Linked DNA regions of Homo sapiens. The protein of the gene in region 1 purifies or fractionates together with the protein of each later gene. This does not show direct contact. Each region holds a gene or a part of one and is shown on either strand. Other genes may lie near its edges.

Region 1 (4,473 bases):
CTCTGCTTCCCCTGCTGCCAACAGTTCAACCTCCATGCAGCACGTGAGGCAAACTCCAAATGAACAAATCATCTATTCCCACCCTTGCTTTAAACTCTTCCATAGCTCCCACCTGCCAGAGAATAAAATCCGCCTTTCTTGCCCTGCATGTTCTGGCTGCTCTTGACCTCCCTGCCTTCCTTGCCCTCCACCCCTGGCTCTTCCTTGGACCTCCCAGCACTGCCCAGAACTTTCTCACTGCCCGAGAGGACAAGGTAGGAGGATCACTTGAGGATAAGAATTTGAGACCAACGCCGGGTGCGGTGGCTCACGCCTGTAATCCCAGCACTTTGGCAGGAGGATGGATTCAGCCTAGGAGTTCAAGACCAGCCTGGGAGACATGGCGAAACCCCACCTCTATAAAAAATTGCAAAAATAAGCTGGTCATGGTGATCTATACCTGTAGTCCCAGCTACTCAGGAGGCTGAGGTGGGAGGACTGCTTGGGTCTGACAAGTGGAGGCTGCAGTGAGCCATGATCATACCACTGCACTCCAGTCTGGGCAAAAGAGTGAGACTCTGTCCCAAAAAAAAAAAAATTAAATGCCCGTATGTGACCAGTTGCTCCTTTATTCATTACAGCAGAGCTCTAAACACTTGGTCACCTCAAGGCCTTTGCACTTGGTATTCCCACCTGGAGACACCATTCCGTCACTGGCTCTCCTTCATCCCTCAGGTCTGCTCAAATGTCACCTCCTGGGCAAGACCCTCCCTGACTACCAAGCTTAAAAGATGACCCCTCCACCTCACGGAGGACCTTGGCAGGCATTTTGTTCCTTTCTCTTAATACCAATTTCAACTGATTAGGTTACATGTTCACAGGAAAAGTTAAAAGCTTGGACTTGGGAGAGCAGAGCTTCTCTGAGCCTCAGCTTCCTCATCCACAAAAAAAGAATAACAGCACCAGCCTCAAAGTTTGCTACAGAGATGAATCCAATGCCATCACCAGGGTGACTGCTCAGGAGAGAGAACCCAGGCGTGTCTGGGAGTCAAAGGAGGCTAACACAAGTCTCTCCATCTCACCACTGTGCCTTGAGTGGCAGAGCCCAGCCTGCCACCTCCAAACTGTGTGACCTCTTACCAGATAGGCCTCCTCGCTTTGAATGTGAGCATAACGGCCAGGGGCGGTGGCCCACGCCTGTAATTCCAGAACTTTGGGAGGCCGAAGCGGGAGGATCACCTGAGGTTGGGAGTTCGACACCAGCCTGACCAACGTGGAGAAACCCCGTTTCTACTGAAAATACAAAATTAGCCAGGCATGGTGGTGCATGCCTGTAATCCCAGCTATTCGGGAGGCTGAGGCAGGAGAAACACTTGAACCCGGGAGGCGGAGGTTGCCGTGAGCCATGATCACGCCATTGCACTCCAGCCTTGGCAACAAGAGCAAAACTCCGTCTCAAATAAAAAAAAAGAAGAAGAAAGGTGAGCATAACAGACAAGGCACGGTGGCTCATGCCTCATACTCATGCCCTCCGTTATCCATGGTTCCCGAATCTGTGGATTCAACCAACCGTGGATGGAAAATAGGAAAAAAAAAATTCCACAAAGTTTCAAAAAGCAAAACTTCAATCTGCCCTACACGAAGCACTTCTTTGAATCCATGTGAATGAAGTGATGTGTAGGCCTGTATTATGTATTCTAGATGTGAGTAATCTAGGGTGATTTAAAGTATAGGGGATTAGCTGGGTGCAGTGGTTCACACCTGTAATCCCAGCACTTTGGGAGGCCAAGGTGGGTGGATCACTCGAGGTCAGGAGTTCGAGACTAGCCTGAGCAACAAGGTGAAACCCCGTCTCTACTAAAAATACAAAAAAATTAGCTGGGCATGGGGGTGTGTGCCTGTAATCCTAGCTACTCAGGGGGCTGAGGTTGCAGTGAGCTGAGATCCCCCCACGGCACTCCAGCCTGGGTGACAGAGCGAGACTCCGTCAAAAAAAAAAAAAATTAAAGAATTAGCCTGATGTGGTGGTGTGCACTTGTAGTCCCAGCTACTGGAGAAGCTGAGGCAAGAGGATCGCCCGCGCCAGAGAGATCGAGGCTACAGTGAGCCATGATCGCGCCACCGCACCCCAGCCTGGGCGACAGTGTGATACCTTGTCTCAAAAAAAAAAAAAAAAAAGGAAACAAGACGCACAGCGATTACTACGCCCCGGGGATTCTTCCAATGCATTACAAATATCAGGTTGTTGAGTTTTTTTTTTTTAGACAGGGTCTCACTTGTCACCCAGGCTGGGGGTGCAGTGGCACGACCGTAGCCCACTGCAGTGCAGCCTTGACCTCCCGGGCTCAAGCAATCCTCCCACCTTAGCCGCCCAAGTAGCTGGGACCACAGGCGTGCGCCACCACGCCCGGCTAATTTTTGTATTTTTTTAGAGACGAGATCTCACTATGTCACCTAGGCTGGTCTCGGGCTCAAGCGATCCTCCCGCCTAGGCCTCCCAAAGTGCTGGGATTACAAAGCCACCACTCCCAGCCTCAGCTACTGAATTCTTGAAACAATCCTGGGGGGACCGGTAATTAAAGCAGACACGGAGCCTTTCTACAGGTTTCAAAACTAGTCAGCGGCAGAGCTGGGATTGGACGGCAGTTCAATCACTGCTCCTCGCACGGTCCCTCCGCGCCCGGCCTTTGTCAGGCCGCCCCTCCACAAGTTACCGGCCCCCTCTGTCCCGCCCGCAGGCCCGCACCACCTTTCTTCCCCTTGAGCTGCATCTCCGGCTCCTCCATAGCGACCGCGGCCGAGCGAACCGGGAAACGGCACCGGAAGCCCGGAGGTTGGGACGCCCGCCTAAGCCTTCCCTGCTGAAACCGGACGCCGCACGGCTCCTGTTCCGGTGTCAGAGGGCCCGCCCTCCCCGCTCCTCAGTCTTTGCGGACAAGAAAGGGGCTGTGTGAGACGCAGGGAAGGAGGCACACCCGGGGGTGGCGCAGTGAGGAGGGGGCGCGACGGCCAGGAGGCTGGTGGAGCGACACCCAGGCAGGAGAGGGGGAAGAACTCTCTCCCTTTCTGAACCCCCTTTTCCTTGAGAGACGAGTTGGGGGAGTCCTCCACGCATTACCCACTCGGGCCGCAAAAACTCCCTTCTTTAGCCCTCTGCCCCCGCCCTTGCTTATAAGCCTTTGAGACCGCAGAAGGGACCTTGTTGTGGAACGGGACGGCCAAGGTACGCTGCCCCTTTAAGTTCCAGACGCCCCGCGTACTTCCCCTACTTCTTCTTCTTGAGATAGCCCCGCCCATCTACCCGAAGCCGGAGCCAATTGGCTCCCTCTGGAAAAATCTGTGGGCAGGGTAAAGGTGAGCGGGCGCAGGCGTAGTGAAATTCTCAGAGCCCTTTAGGCCCCGCCCATTCCCTCCGAGTCGGTGAGGAGGGGAAAAGAAGGCGCAGGCGCAACTGCCCTCCCAGGACCCCAGCGGAACCCACGCCCTCCCCTAAGTCTTAAAGGGCCAGAGGCAGCACTTACTGCCCGGGCCCTTCCTCACTTTTGGGGGGCGGGGGTGCGCAAGCGCAGTGGGGGAGCTCTGGGGTGGGGGTAGCGGTCGAGTATCAAGTTGCTTTCTGTCCCGGCAGAGGAAGCCAGATCGCTGAGGGTCCGGTCTCCAGTTTGCCTCCTGCTATATCCATTGGAAGAGAAAAGTTTGTGACTTGGGCCCCCAAGTTTTGAGAGAACTGGGCTTTCGGCGCGGGGGGACAGAGGAGGCTCGTGGGGAGGTGAGTGGACCTCCTGGATCGATTTAGGAGGCTCGGGTGGGACTGGGACCAATCGCACCTTTGTTGAGCCGTCACTCATTATGGGGAGCCCCTCCCAACAACCATAGCGAATATTTATTGAGCTCCACGCTTAGCAGATCCCCCGATAAGCTATGTACAGACATAATTCGTTGTAGGTCTCATTTCCACATTTTGTCGTGGAGGAAACTGAGGCTCAAAGGTTAAGTCACGTGCCCAAGTTCTCACGGCCTATAAATTGAGGGATTCGAACCCAGACAGCTGACCCCAGAGCCCCGGCTTTTTTTTCCTTTCTTTTTTTTTTTTTTTTTTTTTTTTGAGACAGAGTCTTGCTCTGTCGCCCCAGCTACAGTGCAGTGGTGCGATCTCTGCTCACCGCAACCTCCACCTCCCGAGTTCAAGCAATTCTGCCTCAGCCTCCCGAGTAGCTGGGATCACAGGCGCCCGCCACCGCGCTTGGCTAATTTTTGTATTTTTAGTACAGATGGGGTTTCACCATGGTGGCCAGCCTGGTCTCGAACTCCTGACCTCATGATCCACCCTCCTCGGCCTCCCAAAGTGCTGGGATTACAGCCGTGAGCCACTGTGCCCTGCCAGAGCCCAGGCTCTTAAACATTGCACATTGTAGGTGCTTTGGTGGTGGGGAATGGTAGACCTCGAAAGCAGTTGGACTCTGGTTTTCATTTCCCTGGCTCTGGTAATTAACC
Region 2 (5,001 bases), on another chromosome or scaffold:
CTGTACTGCCTAGAGACAATAAGGTTAAAGGTTTAGCTAACCTGTGGTTTTGTTTTTCCTATTTTCCCAACATAAATTATTTAATTGTGCTTTCCTCATTAATACAAATAGAGCATAGAAAAATTTCTGATTATGTTCCAGTAAATCAGGGTTTTACTGTTCATTTAGTATTTAAGAAGGGAACTGATTTAAATGCACCCACATGAATGGTATCCATATGTAACACACCTTTTGTTGTTTGTTTTTTTTTAATAGCCCCACATCTACCAATTTCAGCATCTGGAGCTAAAATCTTATTTAGTGATAGATGGCTATTTCAAAAATGTGGAGCCCTTCCTTTTCTAATTCTTCTAATTTTGGGAACCACCAACTTTCCAGACCAATTCTAATGTTCGCATTTTGCTTTTTGATGGTCTCTCTTCTAGGATTTCCTTTCATGAAACCATGACAATTTTACTTAAACATATGTTTTCTATGCTTTCTTGCATAATAAGGATATACACTGGCAGCAATCACAGGAAAATGTGGCAAATCTTTGTTGCAAAGGTGATTATATACAATGGATTTTGTTTTGTTCAGAGGTATATGAAAAAAATAGAAGGTTGATATACGAGATAATTGGGCCAATAGACACCTATACTGTTAATAAGTATACAGAAAAATTAAATGGAATTTTTCCTCTTTCTCCTATTGCATGAAAGTAGTAGTTCTGGTGTTATCAAGTTAACAAAGCTAGGGTGTCAAACCTTTTTCTTTTTATAATTAAATGATACACATTATTAATTTGCCATCGTGTGAATATTACAGCATAAACAGAGACATAATAAAGGTCTTTGTATTTCTACTGCGACTTACATTTTACGTCATTTTGGCAGAATCCTCTAAACTATATGAGTTAATTTTAAGAAATTTTGTTTTACTAACAAATTGTATCACTATGGAAAGAAGTACTAATAAAATTACATACATTTGTAAAGTGAGGATAATAGTTTTTACCTCGTGGAGTTCTGTTGGACTACTAGAAAAACCATGTGCAGTGCTTAGAACTGTGTCTAGCACACAGTAAGAACCAGTAAATGTCGTTATTGCTATGTATTTTTATCCAAAGATAATGCTTTTCTCCTGTAATTTATGAAAATTACAAAAACTGCAAACCAACTTAGATTAGCAGCTCAAATACAATGTTTGAAAAATGCTCCAATCCAATATTTTTAATATTCTTTTGGGAAAAAAGTGACCTCAGATTTATAAAGAAGGGGCATTCAAGTGAGTCTGACGAGCAAAATGTTAGGTGGAAGTGACCAAAATGATCTCTACCTTTAAACAATTCATTTTGGTTGAAAACATTTTGTAATGATTTGACCACATAACATTTCTAAATAATGATCAAAACATTAGCTGGCCATGAAGTAAACAAAACCTAGTGAAATTGTTCAACATGATACTTTGTGACTAAGCAGTCAGTCATTTTGACCATAAAGGTAGTTGAAGATGAAAACAAAACAAGGGACTTCTGGAGTCCATTAGACTCAAGCTAAAGCAAAACCTAATAACGGGTATAATTGCTAAGCAACAGAGAAAACTGTTCTCTTTCCTTACTGTTAATCTATCATTTCCTTTTCTAACTTACTTCTGAAGATCCACCAACCCACAACAATAAAAATTACAATTACGAACATAACCCCTATCCTTTCTCCATTGTTCACCTCTTACATCAAAAGCATACCTATATATTTTCAATTATTTTAAAAAATTCAAAGCTGACATTTTTTTCATCATCCTCCGAAAATTACAAAGGCTGAATACAATATCCTTCTATAAACTAATGATAGTACACTTAAATAATATGACGGGTAGGTGTCAAATAAAACAGGAGACACCTTCCCATTCAATTACAATATGAACGAACTCCACAAAAAAGGAAAGCTAAAAAGGTTTTCCAATACCAACACGAGAGAAAAATTAGTAACCAGATTAACTAACCCACTTCTCCATTCCTAAAGTGGGATCCTTAGTCTCTGAAAACCTTTAATTATTCTTAAATTCCCTTCGATTAAGAAAAATATCACAGGCACGCAAGCACACCTCAGCAGCCACGGCGCCCAGCAAAACAAACAGTGATGAGGATGAGGATGATACGAGAGGGGTTACACAATCTCTGCTTCAGACTGGGGGGCGTGTCCCCCAAGGTTTTCTCTTCCTTTCTACTGGAACGACAGCTGTAGCGCCACAGGGAGAACCCAGCCACACGGCCTGCAGGGCCCCAGGATTTTGTGTGGGGAGCAGAAAGGAAAGAAGGAAAATCTGAGGTTCCGAAAGGTGCACAAGAAAACGAGCTCGGCGCGGCGTTGGGAGCGAGTGCCGGGGGTTTGGGGATTCGGCGCAGCCGGGTGAGAGCCTCGGCCACCCTGGGGAGTGGAGAAAGCAGCGCTCACCGCCCCGTCCACCCGCTCGGCCCCGGCCCCCCGCACCCCACCCTCGGGGCGACCCGGACGCGCTCGGTGGGCGTCCCAAGGTGCAAACCAGCTGGGGAAGGCGGCGGGTCCTGAGGCTCCCGGGGTCTGGGGCAGGAGGGAAGAATCTTCTGTACCCGTTGTTCTCCGCACAGCAGCAGCTCCGGGTAACTGAACTCCACGCAGCTCTCGTCGGTGGGGTCCTTAAGCACCAGCTCCAGGCGCACCGTCTCCCTCGGCGGCCGCGGCGGCTGCTCAGCCCGGGAAGCCGACTCCCGCGGCGGGGGCGGCTGCAAGGGCAGCGGCGGGAACGGCGGCGGCGGCTCGGGCCGCGGGGGCTCCCGCTGCAGCGACATGGGCGGCTCGGCGCGGCTGACCTCGCGCTGGGGGAGCGGCTTCTCCCGCGACGGGGGCTGCGCGTCCGAGCGGGGGGCAGGCTCCCGCGGGGCCGGCGGCTCCGCCCGGGCCGGCTCGCGGTACGGCTGCGGCTCCAGCCGGGGGGGCTCGCGGGGGTACTCGGGCTCACGCTCGGGCCCCGGGTACTCGGCCTCGCGCCGCCGCACCGGTGACAAGCTAATGAACGCTACTCTGCGCGGCTCCGCCATCCCCACTGTTCTGGCCCTCCGCTTTTGCTCGAGCCGGCGCTCGCTTCTACGGCGCGCTGCGTGCCTGCCCGCCCTTCCTCTTGCTCTCTGTCGCTTTTCTTCCCTCCACCACCCTCAGCCGTCTCCGCCGGCGCCACGGTGAGTGCGGACCGTGTCCCCTTCCCCGCTACTACGTTCTGATGGGCTTCACCGCCATCGCCAGGGTCGCCGCGGCCGCCATGTTGGATCCCCCACATAAATAGAAGCAGGCCGCTGAGCGGGCGCATGCGCACAGAGGAGACGCTCGCGTCCACTGTCGTGGCTGTTGCTCAGTTTTCCTCTTTTCCTCCCAACAGTCTGGAGTCCAGACAGGTCGGCGGAAGTGACGACATGGCTCGGCCTGTTTCCGTGGAAACGGAGACGCCGTCTGCACCCTTCCTCAAAGGGAGGGTTCTGGGGTTTCCCGAGCAGTTTACTATTCGCACCCGGAAACCAGAGGCGCTCCAGGAGCTTCCCGGGGCTAGCATCGGGATGGGACTGAGACCGACCTAGCCATTGGCGCCGGGTCTCCCGTGCTGGGTTCAAGGGAATTGGGGTTGTTAGCTGATTATTCAAGGCGGACTCTGGGCAAGGGTAGAGAGACGCGCCAGCCGTTGTGCCTGCCCGCCCTGTGTCCCCGTAGCCTTAAGTATCGAGGGAAAAAAGGAAGTGCCCAGCTTCAGCCAGACTAGCCCCAGCGGCTTCCCTCCCGAAAGCGCAGGCCTCCCCTTCCTCGACCTACTCCGGTTTCCCTCGCCCGGCCGCAGTGGGCGTTGCGTGGGGCAGGGTCATTAAATGTTCAATAACGCTTTGCAGTTGGAAAATTAACAAGCAGATGAGGAGTTCTGGGCTCATTCAGAAGGCCTAAACTGCTGAAATCATAGAAAACTTCTTAAGAGGGTTTAGTGGTATTTCAGGAAACGTACTGTTTATGAGAATGCTAAAGGACCCATTTCAGGATGGGGAAGGAATTGATTGGGCACGCCCCATAGGCTCACTTGTAATTAATTAATTGGAAGTCGGGTTTAAAAGGATAAGAATTACTGGCCATTTTAATCCATTGAATAAAAAGTAAATTTGAGGGCTCGCCCTTCACATCCTGAAGGGAATCCAAGCCTTCTGTTAATTGCATTAACTATTGAAAGCTCTTTTATTAAGTCAGTGTGACGTCATTGACAAATTCTGAGAGGGTTCCGTTTTTTCCTCTCCTGTTATTACTTTCCCTACTTGGACGAAGATGGTGATGAAATCTATGATTCCAAAGGTCTCTCCCAGCTCTAAAACCCTATCTTTTCTACTCGGCGCCATGTTTTACCTACATTATCTCCTTCCCTATTGCTCCTTTTCTGATTCTGAATTCGGGTCTCATTTTTAGATTGCCTTAGTGATACTTAAATGACCTTTCTGCCTTCAGTCTCTGTTCCCACCAGTCTTGAGACGGGGTCATATTAATGTCTCTAAAAGAGTTTTTATTATATCGTTCTCTGTTCTGGCTGCAACTTACCTACAAACTGAGTTCTATGTATGTATACTCATATTCAATATCCTCCACAATTTAGCTCAGAGACTGCAAACTGGTGGTCTGTGGGCCAAATCCTTCTACAGGTGTGTTACTTATCCAACATTATCTTCTAACTTCTCACCCACTGAGTTTTCCAACTTTTTGATCCATAACCCACAGTAAGACATTTTACACTGTAACCTAGAATATACACCCATATATACATAACACATATGTGCATATGTGAAATATAAGTTTCACAATACTTACCTACTGCTTAGGATAAAGTAAAAGCAACAGACGCAACAGAGTTAATTTAATATAAAATATTTTATAATACAGTGTAGAAAAAAATGTTAACATCATATAGAAGCAAATTAGGAAAGATTTTATTTAATGCCATGGAAGTTCTTGCCTGATCATA

What was found. The genes of interacting proteins can lie anywhere in the genome.
Region 2: the proteins of BORCS8-MEF2B (region 1) and UBN2 purify together in Homo sapiens (affinity purification with mass spectrometry, with the first as the bait; one large-scale study listed by BioGRID). This does not show direct contact.

What each region holds. Positions count from the first base shown.
Region 1 is NC_000019.10:19,189,353-19,193,825, forward strand, and holds the start of BORCS8-MEF2B (myocyte-specific enhancer factor 2B), read right to left. Parts: upstream 2,801-4,473; 5' UTR 2,766-2,800; coding exon of another isoform or gene 2,729-2,765; intron 1-2,728. Other genes in the region: BORCS8 (BLOC-1-related complex subunit 8), read right to left, coding at 2,729-2,765. UniProt on the Homo sapiens protein: Transcriptional activator which binds specifically to the MEF2 element, 5'-YTA[AT](4)TAR-3', found in numerous muscle-specific genes. Activates transcription via this element. May be involved in muscle-specific and/or growth factor-related transcription.
Region 2 is NC_000007.14:139,229,542-139,234,542, reverse strand, and holds the start of UBN2 (ubinuclein-2), read right to left. Parts: upstream 3,307-5,001; 5' UTR 3,059-3,306; coding exon 2,591-3,058; intron 2,123-2,590; exon of another isoform or gene 2,086-2,122; intron 1-2,085.